Regions from separate parts of the Homo sapiens genome. Here region 2 is linked to region 1. Evidence: fine-mapped expression QTL. Tissue or cell type: substantia nigra. Region 1 holds a variant in brackets; the other region holds the start of a gene. All regions are shown on one strand. Distances are between the middles of the regions.

The links. PIP is the estimated chance that this variant, and not a neighbour inherited with it, causes the effect.
Region 2: it holds the start of C1QTNF6, and the variant in region 1 is fine-mapped to the expression of C1QTNF6 in substantia nigra (GTEx, PIP above 0.99).

Annotation. Positions count from the first base shown.
Region 1 is chr22:36,865,737-36,868,236 of GRCh38, reverse strand. It overlaps NCF4 (neutrophil cytosolic factor 4), which reads right to left. Exons shown (of 10, transcript NM_000631.5): 4 at 775-845. The region is part of intron 1 of NCF4-AS1 (NCF4 antisense RNA 1); the gene reads left to right. Among named protein-coding and RNA genes, the nearest start is that of NCF4-AS1, 3.5 kb to the left of the region's middle. The variant G/A (reference allele first, on the strand shown) is at 1,337.
Region 2 is chr22:37,186,681-37,189,421 of GRCh38, reverse strand. It overlaps C1QTNF6 (C1q and TNF related 6), which reads left to right and starts at 1,175. Exons shown (of 3, transcript NM_031910.4): 1 at 1,175-1,259. The coding sequence starts at 1,209. IL2RB-AS1 (IL2RB and C1QTNF6 antisense RNA 1) reads right to left here. Exons shown (of 2, transcript NR_199008.1): 2 at 2,600-2,741. RefSeq lists enhancers at 1-165, 166-801, 802-1,435, 1,436-2,071.

The DNA of each region.
Region 1 (2,500 bases):
ATGCCGCTGGGCTGGGAGGAGGGCTTCGCTTGCCAGCTTCCTGAGGTCACTATCAGGTCTCTAGCGACGGTGCACTCACTGCCACCTCATGAGGAACACTGCCCCTTTCCTGGATGGCTGTGGCTGGTGGAAGTCCTTTCCTGACCACCTTGGCCTCTGCCTTTAAGATGCTCCTTCCTCTACGCTCCCATCTCATAGAGATGCAGAGTTTGCAAGTCGGAGAATACACAAGGGCCCCCAGCCAAGACCCATGAGTGTAGCTAAAATCCAGCCCATGTTCACGTAAGGGAGTGAGTTGTCCCAGAGGAGGCCTACTCTAGTTTGCACAAAGATGCTATATGAGCAACCTGCGGCCTGCTTGGCCACACCCCCATGATGGAGGCACACATATGTCTCCGTGTGATCTTATGATCCACCTGTTGGCATTCCCATAGGACAGTGGGTACCTTGGGGGCAGACACTGGATGGAATTCACCTTTGTATTTTAACTCCTGGCATAGACATTCACCTGTGGGGCTTGGAGCATTAAATGAAGACTTGTCAATTCCTAGTGTGGCTCTTTTACCTTCTCCGTTGCTCCTGCTCCTATCTCTGGAACCCTAAGGACGCATCCTGTTTTACTCCCCAGACCAGGCCTTTAGGGATTGAAGATGGGGCCATCAGAGCCAGAGAGCCAGCCCCAGTTCCCAAAGCCATACCCAGGGATGGTACGTGGGCTCCCCCACCAATACTGCATGCCCTTCCACGTGCCAAGGTGGCAAGGCCCACTGGTACCTTCATGTAGGCGTTGAGGGCAGGTATCCGCATCTCGGCGATCTCCTGTTTCACACCCACGTAGACTTTGGCTGAGAAGAGACAAAGAGCTGTCCTAGGAGCCTGGCCCAACATGGCCCCGGGGCTCAGGGCTGCCCCTACAGGCCAGGAACCCTGGCCAGAGCCCCTTCCCGATGGCTCAGCATTCTTCCCTGTTATCTTTTCACAGCACTGAAGTGGCCACTCTGGCACCATCCAACTTTCATCCTCTCAGTTGTGCTATCACCAGCTGATATTTTTCTTGTCTTACTTTTTTATTTACTGCCTGTTCATCCAAGCGCACACACACACACACACACACACACACACACACGACTCTTAGTTCTAAGAGAGCAGGATTTTCACCTGCTTGGCTCACAGCTGTACCCCCATCACCCAGGACAGTGGCAACACCGGCTGCACATTCAAGCTACCCAAGGAGCTTGTAAATATCTCACTGTGTAGCACTTGCCCCAGAGCAATTAAATCAGAATCTCCGGGGGCAGGACTCAGGAACCAGGATTCTTTCCATCTCTCAAGGCAC[G/A]TCCACATACCACCAAAGTTAAGAACCATGGGTCTAGAATCATGCCCAGATGAATGAGCATTTGTTAAGTGGATGAATGAACAATTCCTCAAGCTCAAGGCAGATGTTCTGGAGGAAAAGGAAATATGACGGGCTACCAAGAGACAAATGTCCCCTCCAGGTGCCTTCATGTGGGCGCACTGGTGGAACCATTCACCAAGAGAACCCCTACGAGGAAGCAAGTCTGAAACCTGCCTGGCTCCTGGTGTCCAGGAGATGGACAGAGGTGATGGCGGCGGCGGTAGGAGGGTCTGGGCTAGAGCTAGACATTGGGAGTTAGGAGCAAAAACGTGACAATTAAGTCCCAGACATGGGTCAGTTTGCCAGGGTGAGTGTTTGGAATGAGAAGACAAGGCAGGGGAGAGAGGATGTCTGCTCAGAGGATCCCCACCTTCCAAGGAGCAGCAGAGAAGGTTGATTCTGTAACAGAGAAGCTGAAGGAGTCTCTAGTAAGCTAGGAAGGGGATTGGGAGACACTGGTGCCTCAGGAGGTTGGAGAAAGCTTAACAGAGGAAGGAGTGGGGGTGTGAAGATGAGGCTTGGCACTGGCCATGGAAGCCAGAATTGATGGGTCATGGCCCACCTCACCGAGAGGAATTTCAGTGGAGTAGTCAGAGCTAAACCAAGCTGAGGAGTTAAGGAGAGGATGGCCATGCCAAGGTGAGACAGTGCGTGAATTTGATGCCAAAGGAAGAAGAAAGAGAACTTTGGGGGCCCTGGGGGCACGGAGGCTCAGGGAGGCTTGTAAGAATGCTGTTTCATGGCTCAGGATTGTTTAAAGACAGAAGAGGGTTGAGGCTGTGGAGACGCTTAGCAGAGGGAGTTGGTATATCAAGAGGAAGATGAATATACAAGGAAAAGGAGGGGTAGATTGTCAGGAGAGAGCCCCAAAAGAGAGAGGAGGGAAAATGATGGAGCCTGAGAGGGGAGGCTGGCTTAGAGTAGGCAAGACTCCTAGGGGGAGCTTCAAGTTCCTTGGTGGGGCTGGATGAGAAGGAGCGGGGTCATATGCTGAGACAGAGAGAGACAGAAACAGAGACAGAAAAAACAAACTGGAGATGGGGTTGGAGCTTGGGGAAGGGTCCCTGAGGCTTGGGGAAGGGAGACAATTGTCCCTGTCTCTAA
Region 2 (2,741 bases), 320 kb before region 1:
CTAAGACCTGCCAGGCTGCATTCCCAGGAGGTCAGGCATTTGTAGTCACAGGAAGGGATAGGAAGTTGGCAGGACTGGTATCACAAGATACAGGTCATCAAGACCCTGCTGAGAAACAGTATGCGGTAAACAAACCAGCCAAAACCTGCCAAATCTAAGATTGCAATGAAAGTGACATCTGGTCATCCTTATTGCTCATTGTATGTTAATTAAAATGTGTTAGCTTGCTAAAACACACTTCTACCAGCACCAAGACAGCCTACAAATACCATGGCAATGTCCGGAAATTACCCTATATTGTCTAAAAGGGGGAGGAAGCCTCAGTTTCAGGAAATTCCCACCCCTTTCCTGGAAAACTCATGAATAATCCACCCCTGTTTAGCATAGGATCAAGAAATAACTATAAAAATAGCCAACTAGCAGTGCTTGGGGGTGCTCTGCCTATGGAGTAGCCATTCTTTTGTTTCTTTGCTTCTCTAATAAACTTGCTTTCACTTTGCTCTGTGGACTTACCCCAAATTCTTTCTGGTGCAAGATCCAAGAATTCTCTCTTGGGGTCTGATCAGTACCCCTCTCTGGTAACACTTGCATGATACCTGAGGAGGTCAGCCTGGTCATTCACCCAACAAACATGGGTTAAGCCCTCCCATGTGCCTGGCACAAAGGGGGCTGAGGACTGCAGTTCTGGAACACCTAGGCTCTGAGAGGCGACGCGACTGTGGTAGCAGGGCCAGGATTCTAGCCTGTGCCTGGAGGGCCAACACCTGCACCTTCTCTGCTACCCACCCTGCCTCTGTGACTCAGAGCAGTTAAGCACTTTAGCTCAGGGTGGACTCAGGGCTGCCTCCCCCTTCCTGAGCAACCTAGGGGCTCCTGTGCCCCATGCCTGTGTCCATTTCCCAATCATCAGGGGGCCTCAGACTCCTGCCTGCTCTGACTTTCTAGGCCTTTGAATCAAGCAAGACCCCACTGGATCACCAAAGAGTTAAGCAAAGGAAATCCCTGCCTCCCTTTATCTCCGCAGAACCCAGAGGCTGAAAGGGAGGGAGCAGGGAGGAGGGGAAGTGGGAAGCGGCTCTGCCCTCTCCCTCCGCCCTCCCTCCGCCCTCTCTCCCTCCATCCCCTCCTCTCTCCCTCCTCTGCTGGGCCTGGGGGTCTGGGCCAGCAACAAGTTAGTATTGCAGACATGGGCCAAGGAGCCAGAGGCCATGCAGTGGCTCAGGGTCCGTGAGTCGCCTGGGGAGGCCACAGGACACAGGGTGAGTGACCAGAGGCTCCTCAAGCTTGGGGGCTGGGGTCAGAGCCTGGAATTCCTCTCCTCCCTCCTTGCTTCCTGGAAGCATCTCGGGCCCTGCTCTCTCCCTCTGACTGGGACAGCCTCTCCAGGCTCTCCCCTCCACATTTCCTCCTGCCTCTGGCTGAGGGCTGCGCTCCACTGCTCCCGGTTTGTGCCCGCCCCTACCCGGGCACACACAAACTCAGCTCTGCACGGCCTGCCTGGACCGAGAAAAGTTGCCCTGCCGCTCCCTCCCCAAAGAGGTCCCAGTGGAAGCAGCAAGGACCCCAAAAGTCCTCCCTATGACTTGGTTCCCACACTTGGTCCCTGCCTGGCACCCACCCCCAGAGCTAGTTCGTGATCCTGGCTGTGGTTATGATTCCTCGTTAACGGCTTCCTGATTCCTGCTCCCAGGCCACGGTTCTGTGTCTCACAGCCTTTGACTCCCATCCGCTGGGGCCAATAGGAAACAGAAATGCTCCCAAACCATGCCAGTCCTCTGGGAGAAGTTCTCCTTCCCATCCCATGCAGGCACAGGGAAGAAGTCAAAGCACACTTTTTTTTTTTTTTTTAAGTCTTTTATAAGGCAGGCACTTTTCCTGCATTGAAATCCTTCCAAATTACCTGGGAGGGAAAGGGTGGTGTCATTTCCTTGTAAGTATCAAGGAGCAGGAAGCCCAGAGAGGTTCAGCCACTAGCCCTAGGTCACACAGCTTGCAAACTATTCTGGGTCTCAGATTTGACTCTAAGACCTCAGCTTTTCTCATGAGGTCATATCTGTGGCTGGGAAAAAGAAGGGAATTTTGGGATTTCCAAAACCACTGGGATTTGTCATTTATAAGTAAAAGTTGAGGATGACAGTCTCAGACAGGGAGGATGTTGATCTCTGAGGATTTGACCTCCTTATTGAGCAGAACCAGGAACCCAACCAGGGTGGGCAGAGAGAAGCTTGGGAAGAGTCACCTCCAGGAAGAGGGAGGTGGCTCTGGAGACTTCCTGTCCAGCCCCCTTCTCCTGCTGCTACCATCCAGCTCTGGGGGTGGGGGGCAGGGCTCCTGCCGCTTTATTTATTTTTAGTTTTAATTTTTGAAAAATAGAGACAGGGTCTCACTATGTTGCCCAGACTGGTCTCGAACTCCGGGACTCGAGTGATCCTCTCTCCGTGGCCTCCCAAAGTGCTGGGATTGCAGGAGTAAGTCACTGCACCTGGCCATCCTGCCCCTTTAAAACTCTGCCCTCACCTCAGTGCTCAGCTGAGACAGGGTGGCATTTTAAAAAGTAATAATTGTACCTTGTCTACATGTATTAACCACAAAAAAAATATTTTTGAATTCTACTAAATGTTAAAGGAGAACAAAAAGGAAATAAACAAAGAAACGCCAGAAGTGTAAAAACCAGTCTGGTTTCAAAAGCAGAGTTTCTGATCCTGTGATAACTCGGCACCAGCCCCCAGAAGCTGCACCAC